Regions from separate parts of the Homo sapiens genome. Here all the other regions are linked to region 2. Evidence: fine-mapped expression QTL. A gene starts in region 2. Each other region holds a variant in brackets. All regions are shown on one strand. Distances are from middle to middle. Region 1 holds the start of LOC124905983 (a long non-coding RNA gene). Region 2 holds the start of EHD3 (EH domain containing 3). Region 3 has its middle 50 kb from the start of EHD3.

What was found. PIP is the estimated chance that this variant, and not a neighbour inherited with it, causes the effect.
Region 1: its variant is the best candidate, but not a certain one, in a credible set for the expression of EHD3 in lung (TOPMed, PIP 0.71).
Region 3: its variant is the best candidate, but not a certain one, in a credible set for the expression of EHD3 in esophagus mucosa (GTEx, PIP 0.54).

The regions. Positions count from the first base shown.
Region 1 is chr2:31,263,314-31,267,553 of GRCh38, reverse strand. EHD3 (EH domain containing 3) reads right to left here. Exons shown (of 6, transcript NM_014600.3): 6 at 1-1,377. The coding sequence ends at 850. LOC124905983 (a long non-coding RNA gene) reads left to right here and starts at 1,614. Exons shown (of 4, transcript XR_007086270.1): 1 at 1,614-4,186. The variant T/C (reference allele first, on the strand shown) is at 2,288.
Region 2 is chr2:31,231,706-31,235,945 of GRCh38, reverse strand. It overlaps EHD3 (EH domain containing 3), which reads right to left and starts at 1,794. Exons shown (of 6, transcript NM_014600.3): 1 at 1,098-1,794. The coding sequence starts at 1,324. It also overlaps a transcript of CAPN14 not described here.
Region 3 is chr2:31,282,024-31,286,263 of GRCh38, reverse strand. No RefSeq gene overlaps it. Among named protein-coding and RNA genes, the nearest start is that of EHD3, 50 kb to the right of the region's middle. The variant A/G (reference allele first, on the strand shown) is at 2,667.

The DNA of each region.
Region 1 (4,240 bases), 32 kb before region 2:
ACATAGAATAATGTATATAAAGTGCCTAACACAGCTCCTGGTACGCAGGAGGGGCTGGGTAAATGTGAGTCAAGTATGAACATCTAAACATCATAGGCCAGGTGGAAAGAACATCTAACAAAATCTATGAACTAAAACCACCTTGACTGGTTTTCAATAGACTACAGGACAATTTCCTCACTCTTATCAATTTTTTTCTCTTCTCTCTCCCGCTCTGGGATTCTTTAAAATGAAATACTGGCAGAGTTCAAAGCAAGGTTTGCCGAAGAAGACAGAGGCTTAGATTAGGAAAGAACAGAGCTCCTGGGCCAATGTCTCTAGAAGACGCTTCCTTTCTCACCTCTCCTCCCTGCAGCTGCCCGCCTGCCCTCAGATCTCCTAGCTCTTGAATGGATTTCTTATTAGGAAGCCAAAGCAGATAGGGGAAGCACAGAAAAAGAAGTGAATTGTCTACTAAATGAAAAGTCTTTTCCATTTGCTCAGAGCCCGGGTGTGGAAGCACTGGGGAATCTGGAGGTGGGTTGGCCATCTGTGCTGGCAAGTGAATTGCCTCAGGTCTGGTATCTGGGGAGTGGCCGAGGAGAGGGGAAGAGCGATAGAGACTTAGGCTTAGACTCTGGGGCCTGGGAGTGCTCTTGTCCTTCTAATCCCGAGAACTTGGAGGTGTGCCCAAACAAGTATCAGCTGCAAACATGGGCGTCATGGTCCTCTCTCACCTACAGAGCAATGTCAAGATATGCATATGTGTGTGTGCATGTTTGTGTGTGTGTGTGTGTGTGTGTGTGTGTGTGTAGTCACCGCTCCCATCTCCTCCTCTAACACTGCCCGTCTGAATGTCCCCCCACCCCATCACTCGGCAACTTTCCTCTTGGACGGGGGCAGGAGGTGGGCAGGCAGCTCGTTGGGCAGCTCGTGCCCCTCCAGCTTGACTTTGATGAGGTGGTTGGCCAGTGCAAACTCGTCGTCGTCCAGCATGCCATCCTTGTCAATGTCGGCCAGCTTCCAGATCTTGCCCAGCACACTGTTGGGCAGCTTGGAGCGCACCATCTCCTTCTTGGCATTAGCGCCTGTGATCTTGCCATCCACCGGTGACAGGGTGTAGAAGATCTCGTCGTACATGGGCTTGTCCCTGGCCACCACCCACTCAGCATCATCGATACCTTCTCCAGCCCCCTCCCCATAGCCATGCCCAAAGGGGCCGTGCAGGGTGCCCTCGAACGCTCCGCCCTTCACCATCTGGATGGGCCGCTGTGACTCCTCCTGGCGCACTAGCACCATGAGCTGGGCAATGTCATGGGCCAGCATGTCGTCCACTACCTCCAGCAGCTTGCTCTTCAGCGGCTGGAACTTGCTAAAGTCCTGGGCCTGCAGCTGGTCCTGGGAAGAGGAGGAGAGAGGATGAAGATAGGATACGATGAAAGGAGAGCCCTCCATTTATCACGTGCCTCCTATGAGCACCAGAATGTTCACAGCTGATCCCTTTCTACAATGAAAGACCTGTGACCTAGAGGCTCAGCTGATGGACATCACGTGGTAATCGAAGGTATGAGAGAGGAGGGGAATAAAGGCCCACTGGGCTGATGATGGGATTTTTCAGTAGGGGGTAGAAGGGTTGTAGGGGCTGGGGAAGAAAGGGAAATTTAACAAGTATTGGCATGATCTATTTATTTCAATCCCCTTCAATGTCATTCCAGAGAGGAAATCATTACATTTCTCTTTAAGTCAGTTTTGGCTATTGAATCATGTCTCTTGAATGCTGTACCTCTGAGACTGGGTCATGTGGGCCTCTACTTTAATAAGGGTTATACTGTACTTGAAAATCACCGCAAGTGCCTTCACTACATTACCTCGTTCACTCCCCCAGCGCCCTTCTGAGGTAGGAAAATCACATTCTATCCCCACTTAGTGAAAACAAAAACAAAAACCAAACAGGGCACAGGGTACTAAAACCAAATCATAACAGAAGCCAAAGGTCATCCCCAAATTATGGTTCTTAATCAGGATGCTCATCGGAGTCACCTGAGGAGAGTTTTCAAAATACAGTCATGTGCTGCATTACAATGTTTCAGTCAATGAGGGACCACACGTATGACGAGGGTCCCAGAAGACAATAAGGGAGCTGGGAAATTCCTGTTGCCTGGTGACATTGTAGCTACTGTACACAACACAACGCATTATGTGTTTGTGGTGATGCTGGTGTAAACAAACCTACTGTGCTGCCAGTGGTATAAAAATCTAGCACACACATTTCCATAGAGTACATAATACCGGATAATGATAACGGCTA[T/C]GTTACTGGTTTATGTAAATATTTACTATACTGTACTTTTTATTGTTATTTTAGGGTGTATTCTTTCTACTTATTTAAAAAAAATGTTAACAGTAAAACAACCTCAGGCAGGCCCTTCAGGAGGAATTCCAGAAGAAGGCATTGTTATTACAGGAGATGACACCTCCATGTGTATTACTATCTCTCAAGACCTTCCAGTGGGACAAGATGTGGAGGTGAAGACAGCGAAACTGATGATGCTGACCCTGTGTAGGCCTAGACTAGCATGGGTGTTTGCATCTTAGTTTTTAGCACACACAAAAATAAAAAAGTAAAAAATAAATTTTTTTAAATAGAAAAAACTTATAGAATAAGGATATAAAGAAAATATTTGTGTATAGATATACAATGTACATTTTAAGCTAATTGTTACAACAAGAGTCAAAAACTTTGTAGGCTAGGCGCGGTGGCTCATGCCTGTAATCCCAGCACTTTGGGAGGCTGAGGCAGGCGGATCACGAGGTCAAGAGATCGAGACCATCCTGGCCAACATGGTGAAAACCCCGTCTCTACTAAAATTACAAAAAAAATTTAGCTGGGCATGGTGGCACATGCCTGTGGTCCCAGCTACTCGGGAGGCTGAGGAGAATCGCTTGAACCCAGAGTTGGAGGTTGCAGTGAGCCGAGATCGCGCCACTGCACTCTAGCCTAGCAACAGAGTGAGACTCTGTATCAAAAAAAAAAAAAAAAAAAAGTCTGTAAAGTAGAAATGTTAATTTATTATTGAAGAAAGAAAATGTTTCTAAAAATAAATATAGTGTAGCCTAAGTGTACAGTGTTTCTAAAGAAGTCTACAGCAGTGTACAGTGATGTCCTAGGCCTTCACACTCACTCACCACTCACTCACTGGCCCACCCAAAGCAACTTCCAGTTCTGCAAGCTCCATTCATGGTAAGTGCCCTGTACAAGTATACCACTGTTTATCTTTCATACTGTATTTTTACTGTACCATTTCTATGTTTAGATACACAAATACATGGTGTTACAATTGCCTACAGCCTTCAGTACAGTCACATGCTAGGTCTGTGGCCTAGAAGCAATAGGTCATCATACCATATAGTCCAGGTGTGTGGTAGGCCCTACCATGCAGGTTTGTGTATATACATTCTATGGTGTTCACACACAATGACAAAATCACCTAACAATGCATTACTGAGGATGTGTCCCTGTCATTAGCAAGGCATGACTGTCCCCGAGGGTTTGACACAGCAGGCACAGGCAGGCAGGTGGGCATGCCGATTTTGAAAGAGCTCCTCTTGCCTTCACATGACAACCCACACCACACCATAAAAGAAATATCTTCCACTTTGCAGGTCTCTGCAATTTTGAAAGTTTTCGAGTCTAGAACACCAACTTCTCCATGGCCTGTAGAGGGTGATAGGGTGACAGCTTTCTGCTCCTACCCTGGCTCTGGCCACCTAACTCTCCAGAAGCTGGGAAGAGGCCAGTACACAGGGTGAAGCACAGCTAGTCTGCTGCAGAAAAATGCAAAAAACACCCACAGCTTTCTAGGGCAAGTGTTAGCCTGGGTACTTCTCACCTCCTTCCTAGGGTGAGGCTGAGCCAGGAAGGCCTTAGGGCTGAAGGACTCCTGGAGGAGGAGCAGACAGGGCCCTATCTCCCACCCCTCAGAGCATCACGTCCCAAGGTCCTCCCACCTCTCATTCCTCCTGTCCCTCCCAGCCTGCTCACATCTAGGTATGTTTGGTGGGCTCCCATGCAGGGGTCCCAGTATCAACTAGGGGGCATGGTGGGTGCTCCCATTACCCTACGATGGACACCCACACAGGACAGCTGTTTACATTGTGGATTCAGCATATTGAACTGCAGAACAGAATATTGAACTGGCAAACAAATGAGGTGAGAATCTTTGTTTTGAAAGAATTCCTCACATTAAAACTGGGGTCTTAGGGT
Region 2 (4,240 bases):
CCATTCTCAAGCTGTGGGAGCCTGAGTCTTAAGACAGAGGGCCACAGCATTCTCAACAATTTGGAATGGCTATAAAAGGGGCCAAGAAAATGGCTGGCCTTGAAGTTGGGAAGATTGAGGACTGGAGTGAAGCCTGTTCTCTAAAGATAAGAAGGGCCTCTGGTGGACTTCTCTGAATGCAGGGTGAACAAATTGACTTCTTGAGCCTCCCTCCAGCCCAAGGATTCTGTAATTGAAGGGAATGGATGACTCATTCTCAGAGTTACAGGCGTTTAGCCAAGCATCTCCTCACATGCATCTAGGACTTAACATCCCAGGTCTGCTGCCCACTCTTTAGATGGCTCTGCACAATTCATTTAACTTCTCTGCGCCTCGGTTATCTCACCTGCAAACTCAGCAACTGGATGAGACAATGCCAATATCCCTTCCATCTCTAAGCGTCTTTAATATTATTATTAAGCCATTAAGATCAAATAAGAGAAAGGGGAAAAAAAAAGCATTCTGCTTCTGGACTCAGCTTCTGTTGAGTCTCCAAGATATATACACAGGAGCTCTGCTTTAGAGAAGGAAATGATAAAAGGAGGACAAGTAGCATCCCCAGGCCACCTCCGTTCCCAGGCCCGCACCCATCAGAACTCAGCTGCAACTGTGAGGCCCCCATGTGAGTGCCAAGCCCCTTGAAAAACAAGGGAAGAGGTTTTGCCCGTGAATGATGTGTTGCTAAAAAGTGAAGACGTAAGACATCCCCACCAACATAAGGCGCTCCAGAGACCAGGAGCTCTTCCATTGTGCCTCCTGGGCCTCGGTTTCATCATCCATAAGATGGGGAGACTGGGAATGGCTTTACACTTGAATACTTCAGGTTGACCACCACAGCCAAGGGCCAAGTAGAGTGGACAGGTATTGGGTAGGATGGGAAGGGGGACCAGCAAAAATTGTGGGGTAAGATTTTGACGCCTGCACAAACACAGATCTCTTCAGAGCCCTCAACTGAAGGCTTCCCATTGGTCCCCTGTCTGGGATGGAGCACCAGGAGTGACCGGAGGGACTAGGCGCTGGGCTCCGGGGTGGGCTGCCAGGACCCTGGGCCGGCTCACCTGATGAAGGTGGTCTTCCCAGTGGAGTACTGGCCCACCAGCAGAACCATGGGCTTGTTGTCGAAGTCGGCATCCTCCAGGGCGGGCGAGTGGAACTCGTGGAAGCGGTAATGCTCTTCCAAGGGCAGCAGCTTGCTCTTGTAGAGTTTCTTGAGCCCCTCACTCACCGTCTGGAAAACCTCGGGGTCCTTCCTCCGGCGGTCGTCCGTACCCAGCCAGCTGAACATCGCGGCCGCCGCTCGCCCCCGGCACGCAGCCCCAGGGGAAGACTCCTCCTCAGGGGAAGATGTCCCGTAGGACCGGTCCGCCGGGCTCCGAGCCGCGCCGCCGCCTCACCCAAGCGCGGGGCTCAGCCGCACCATGGCCCGGGCACGCGGCTAGGAGGGCCGGGAGCGCACTCTCCCTGCTCCTGGGACCAAGCCCAGCCGCTGCTGCATCCAGCAGCCCAGGCCGGAGGGAGGATAAATAATCTGGGCTTGAGGAGGAGGGGTGAAATCTTGGCAATTAAAGTTGAACCTGCAAGGAAACTGCCAGATGCCGGGGTCCCAAGCCGGGGTCCCCGATCGGCCCCCAGCCCTCGCCTGCTCTGCCCTGCGTGCAGCAAGGGATGCTTCGGCTCCGCTCCTGCCGGACCGAGGCGGCTCAGGGGAGACGGCGACGCTGCCCAGCCCGCGGACAGCTCTGCATCCGCAGCAGCATCCTGCAGCCCCAGGCGGTGGTTTAAATGCCAGCTGGGCAGGAAGCCGGCGCGCAGAGGAAGTCCCCTAGTACTGGCAAGGCAGGGCCGGCCCCACGGTTGCGGCGACGGGAAGCCGCGCAGGGCGCCGCCATGTTTGTGGGCAGGCGCTCAGCTCTAGACCTGCGGCCGCGCGGGGAGAGGGATGCTGACCCAGTCCAGTGGGAGAGTGCCGGTGTCTCAGTCTCCGCCTCTGGGGCTTCGATTTGGGAACAGCGCCCTCTCAGGGACGGCTGCGAGGACAGAGTTGACCTATTCATCACACTCCCTGCTTTGAATCGCCTCTCCTTCAGTTGCTGAGGTCAATTCCCTAGGAAAACAGGTACTCTAGTATTGGGGGATTTTTTTTTTTTTTGGCATAGAAAGGGGATCCACTATCAGGTTACACAAAATAACCAAAACTGTCACTACCCAAACTTTTAGCTAGGCTTAGGGTGAAGTCAAAATCGTTCCCATTTACTTATTCATTCATTCCAGCAAAACAAAACAAGCCAAGAAGCAAAATCCCTGCAAGTATTGGGAATTTATTATGGGGCAGTTACAATTTTGGTGACTGTGGATACAGAGATGAGTGCTGAACAGACTCTCCCTTCCAGGAACTCCAGTGAAGGCAGGCTTTAAAGAGGAGGCATGAGCAGAGGGTCATGGGAATACAGGGAGGAGTCACTCCTTTTGTGTGGCTAATTTGAGGAAGGCTTCATGGAAAGCATGACTGTAAGCTGGATCCTAAATGATGAATTGACATCCATTGTTCTAGGAGCGTAAGGAGTATTTGCAAAGGCTTGAGGAACTTGGTGTGTCCAAGGCAGAGTAAACAGTTTGGCATAGCTGGAGTGTAGGGTTTAGGAAGGTGAAAGAGAGTGAGGGAGGCCAAGCATGAAAGGCTTTGCCAGAGATGGGGAACCAATAGCAATGCTATTACTAATCATTGTTACATTAACAAAATGCTCAGCATGTGCAGGGGCCTGGGCTAAGTTCTCAGTGAACATTGCTTTATTTAACCTTCATGGCAGATCATATTATCTCCAGCATCATACTAAGGAGAGTGAGTGGGAACACTGTCCAGGTGTAGGCAAAAGCAGTGCATCGTGTGTAGAGAATTTAAACCCAATAATAAACTTGCTGAAAGTTGATGTGCTTTGTATTGGCACCATTCTAAACAGTGTAGTGATAAAACACTCCTCCCTGCCCAGGCTAATGACTCCCACTACCCTCCCTTCCACAGATGAAGAAGGAGTAGGCTATGGACCAGGCAGGAACTGGAATGCCAAGAGCAGTGTTGGAGGGGCAAAAGAGGTTGGGGGTTGATATGGTTTTGCTTTGTGTCCCCGCATAAATCTCATCTCTAATTGTAATCCCCATAATCCCCATGCGTTTAGGGAGAGAGCTGGTGGGAGGAGATTGGATCATAGGGACAGTTTCATTCATGCTGTTCTCATGATAGTGAGTGAGTTCTCGTGAGAGCTGATGGTTTTATAAGGGGCTCTTCCCACTTGGTTCCTCATACTTCTCTCTCCTGCCGCCTTATGAAGGACGTGTTTGCTTCCCTTTATGCCATGACTGTAAGTTTCCTGAGGCCTCTCTAGGCATGCAGAACTGTGAGTTAATTAAACCTTTTTCCTTTATAAATTACCCAGTCTTAGGTATTTCTTCACAGCAGTGTGAAAACAGACGAATACAGAGGCCAAGAGACCATTTAGGAAACTATTCCAAAACTTAGGAGACAGCTGCAATGGGATTGGAGAAGAGGTCAGACTCAAAAGATTTTTTTCATGGAATAGAATTGTCAGATCTTGGTATGTGATAAAAAAAAGAGGACATAAGGGTGAGGCACAGTCTAGGATGATTTTGAATTTTCTACCATAGGGGATAAGATCATTGGAGAAGCTCTTCCACTAATTAGGGGAGGCAGAGAGAGAGCTGATTTAGCAGACAGAGATAATGTGTTCAATCTAAAACGTGTTGCGTTTGAAGTGCCTGCAGGAGCTTCAAGAGGAGTGTGGTGAAGCTGCAGGGATTTCAGGGGAGGGGGGATTATCAGAGGCCAGTGCTGAATAGAATCTCCTTAGTTACATCTCAGATCTCCCGACTCCCTCCTTGAACCCCAAAACTGATCATCTCTTGTTGAGAATTCACTCAGATTAATATTTCACCCTTGGTGTTTAGCTACTACCAACATACGAACCTAAGGAGTAATATTAAAGATATTTAACAACTCACAAGGCATGAGAATCAAACACCCGGAACAGACACTGGCCTTCCTAGTGGAGCAAGGCTTGCGGCCCCGTGCCACGCCTGGTGTTAATACAGTGGCGTCTGGACCTTGGAGAGATCTGAGCCTGTCCCCGGAGAGAGGTCAGTATGGCCAGCGTGACAGGAAAGAAATCAAGGGGCCCCATTATGGAAG
Region 3 (4,240 bases), 50 kb before region 2:
ATCCTCTTCTGGTGCCAACAACCCCTGTGTATGTGATTCTAGGATGCTTACCATGCCCCTTCACCCTGGCCTTTCCTTCCTATTCAAGAGGTTTGTCACTGGCGATGGTGTTTTCTCCATTGTCAAGCCTCCTCTATGGCTGGTGCTTCATACCTGGTACCCCGACACTTTGCCTCTCTTCATGCCTGCTGACTGAGTCACTTCAAATTTCCACCACCATGGGCTCTTGAACTTGTGACTTCTTGGCCTGATTTTTATACCCACATTGTTAGCCCTGACTGATATTAAGGTTCTCCACAGGTCTGACTGACCTGAGCAATCCCATATTCATTCATTCATTTATTCATCCATCCAAGAAATATTTATGTTAACTCATTGTTAACTTGCAGGGCCTCACTCTGCTGCCCAGGCTGGAGTGCAATGGCATGACCACAGCATACTGTAACCTCAGACTTCTGGGCTCAAACAATCCTCTCACTTCATCCTCCCGTGTAGCTGGAAATGCAGGTGTGCACCACCATGCCTGGCTATTTTTAAAAATTTCATAGAGACGGGATCTTGCTATGTTGTCCAGGCTAGTCTCAAACTCTTGGCCTCAAGCTGTCCTCCCACCTTGGCCTCCCAAAGTGCTAGTTGTGAGCCACTGCACCCCACCTCATTGTTACTTTTGGTGCTGCTAACTTACTTATAGAATGGACATAAGAATTCTTAGAATGGGCCTGAGAATTGACAATCTGTTTTTATTTATCCCTTCTAATTTGATAAGTAGGCTAACACTTATATATACCTGTTATATACCTGTCATAGTGTTACCAGTGGGTCTTTGTTCTTAGAGCTCCCAAGATGGCGGCAAGCCTTTTGCTCTCTGACCTGGGGTTCTTGGCCTCACGGATTCCAAGGAATGGAACCTTGGCCCATGCGGTGAGTATTACAGCTCTATTAGAAGCCGTGGGTCAGGGAAGAGAACCGTGGAACCCAGTGACTAGTGTTCAGCTTGATTAGGACAAACCCGGGCACTTAGCCATGCAGGAACAATAGCGAACCTCTAGCCCGATAGGGAACGGCAATGGATGGGCGCCTTGCTGATCAGAAGCGCAGCGTACACCCTGCTGGATCCGGAGGGGTGGAAGTTAGCGGCGGGTCTGCGACAGCGGCAATCAGCAGTGGTGGACGGTGAGCAAAAGCTCAGCTTGAGCCAGAACAAACACGGACCAGAAGAGTGTGCAGCTGCAAGATTTAATAGAGTGAAAACAGAGCTCCCATACAACGGGAGGGGACCCAAAGGGGGTTGCCACCGCTGGTTCGAATGCCTGGGTTTATATCCTGATCATTGTCCCTCCCCCTGTGCTCTCAGGTGATAGATGGTTGACTATTTCTTTACCTCCTGCTTTTAGCCTAATGGGTATTTTAGTGAGCTCTCTTTACTACCTGACTGGTCAGGTGTGAGCTGAGTAACAAGCCCCGTATTTAAAGGTGGGTGCAGTCCCCTTCCCCAGCTAGGCTTAGGAATTCTTAGTCGGCCTAGGAAATCCAGCTAGTCCTGTCTCTCAATAGTCCATTTGGGTTGCTATAACAAAATACCATCGACTAGATGGCTTATAAATAACATAAATTTATTTCTCACATTTCTGGAGACTGGGTAGTCCAAGAAGAAGGCACTGGCATATTCAGTGCCTGGTGAAGGCCCATTTCCTGGTTGATAGTCCTCACATGGTGGAAGGGGCCAGGCAGCTCTCTGGGCCTCTGTTATAAGAACACTAATCCCATTAGTGAGGGCTCCACCCTCATGGCCTAATCACCTCCCAAAGGCCCCACCTCCTAATACCATCACATTGGTGATTAGGTTTCAACATATGAATTCTGGGGGGACACAAACATTCAGATCACAGCAATGCCTGTTTTACAGATGAGGGGATGGAGACTCAGAGTTCTCAAGTTACCTACTCAGAGTCACAGGGCTAATAGCAGCAGCGCCAGGAGCCATCCACTGGTCCTCTGATTTTATCTTTTCAAGATGCCTTTTCGTTTCTAACTCCTGACTGAAAGGGGAGAGGCATTTCCAGGTTTGGAGAATTTCCTAAACTCAGAAAAGATGTTCTAAAAAGAAATTGTGTGCCTCAGCACTTCTCCTGAGAAATCACTGTTACAAAAAGTGGGTCCAGGATGGGGGGAGGCTGGGTAGGATGAGGCATCAAAGGGATTTGAGAATGTGAGCTCTACTGGGAAGTGGCTGGGTGGGAGGGGATGTTATAAATAAAGTTTTGATGCCACAAAAGAAATTGTACTTGAATACAAAATTCTCTTTTTAATTCTCAGCAAGGCAAGTTACTTCTATAGAAGGATGCACCCTTACAGATGGAGCAATGGTGAGTGCACACTTGGACAAGGGAGGGGAAGGGGTTCTTATCCCTGACACACGTGGCCCCTGCTGCTGTGTCGTTCCCCTACTGGTTAGGGTTAGACTGCACAGGCTAAAATAATTCTGATTGGCTAATTTAAAGAGAGTGACAGGGTGAGTGGTTTGGCAGGAAAAATGGTTATGACAGAGCAGGTAATCGGAATGAGTCAGGTGGAGCAGGTAATCAGAATGAGTCAGGTGGAGCAGGTAATCGGAATGAGTCAGGGTGGAGCAGGTAATCGGAATGAGTCAGGTGGAGCAGGTAATC[A/G]GAATGAGTCAGGGTGGAGCAGGTAATCGAAAAAGGTTGCTTTATGAGGAAGTTAAGTTTAAAAGTAGAAGGCAAAGAATTGAACATACTGACATATTGATTCTTTGAAAAGAAACTTAGAACTCATATCTAACAGGGAGAAAGATGGGGCACACAATGGCACATACTGCAGACCGGGCTGCTTCCTCCCAAGGCCCTGGGGAGCCCTCTTGAGGACTTGAGGTTTTAGAAAAGGGCATTGTCAGGAGCTGGCAGCCACCTGTGAATTGGTGGTAATGAATGTACTAACACTGTTACCTGTTAGGAAGAGTAAGAAACACAGTCAGAAGATGCTTGGGAGGACCTTGGAGGAGAGGCAAGTTCTGGGAATTTCTGTGGGTAGGCTTTAGGGGATTTTGTAGCATTTGGGAAAGTGTTTTGAGCCAAAGCAGAAGACCAGCCTGTGGCCTTGGCTTTACAAAGTATTTGTCAGGGCTGAGGTCTAACAGAGTGATGGCCTGACCTAAGCTGGAGGACAGACAGCTGAAGGTCAGTGATCAGAAGGCTCTACACAGCAGAGAGAGACCAAGAGTTTAATCTTGCACCAAGCTAATTGAGCTACTGAGAGCGTGTTTCTGTGATTTATAAACCTATCTGTCCTTTGTGTGCCAAGATATTACTTCTCAGTGTCATAAAAATTGGCATATAAAAATATCTGTCTTCCTTTCCCAGGTTAACCTTCTCCAGGATCCTGTAATTATCTCACTCCATCCTCTCCCTGTCCCCTTTGTGTTTTGTAGTGATGACTCACTCATTGCAGTTTGCCTGGGACTTTACTGGTCTAAGTGTTACAGGAAAGGGTTTCCCATCCAGAACCCAAGAGAGGGTTCTTGGATCTCATGCAAGAAAGAACTCAGGGCAAGTCTTCAGTGCAAAGTGAAAGCGAGTTTATTAAGAAAGTAAAGGAATAAAAGAATGGCTACTCCATAGACAGAGCAGGCCCTAGGGCTGCTGGTTGCTCATTTTTACAGTTATTTTTTGATAATATGCTAAACAACGGGTGAATTATTCATGCTTCCCATTTTTAGAACATATAGGGCAACTTACTGATGTTGCCATGGCATTTGTAAACTGTCATGATACTGGTGGGAGTGTAGCAGTGAAGACAACCAGAGGTCACTCTCGTCGCCATCTTGGTTTTGGTGGGTTTTGACTGGCTCCTTTATTGCAAGCTGTTTTATCAGCAAGGTCTTTATGACCTGTATTTTGTGCTGACCTCCTATCTCATCCTGTGACTTAGAATGCCTTAACTGTCTGGGAATGTAGCCCAGTAGGTTTCAGCCTGATTTTACCCAGCTCCTATTTAACATGGAGTTGCTCTGGTTCACACGCCTCTGACATAAGCACTGAAAGTCCCATGACCCAGGAAACCCCCAATATGGGCATTAGGACAGTTGGTCACCGTAAAGGTCTTTTCCTCCACCGACTCCTTCTTAACCTGTGAACATTCCCATGTCACCTCTTTGTTAACCAATTCTGCTTCCCTTGAGCTCCTATTAATTCTTTTTCATCTATGGACTCCTAAACTTCTTCCA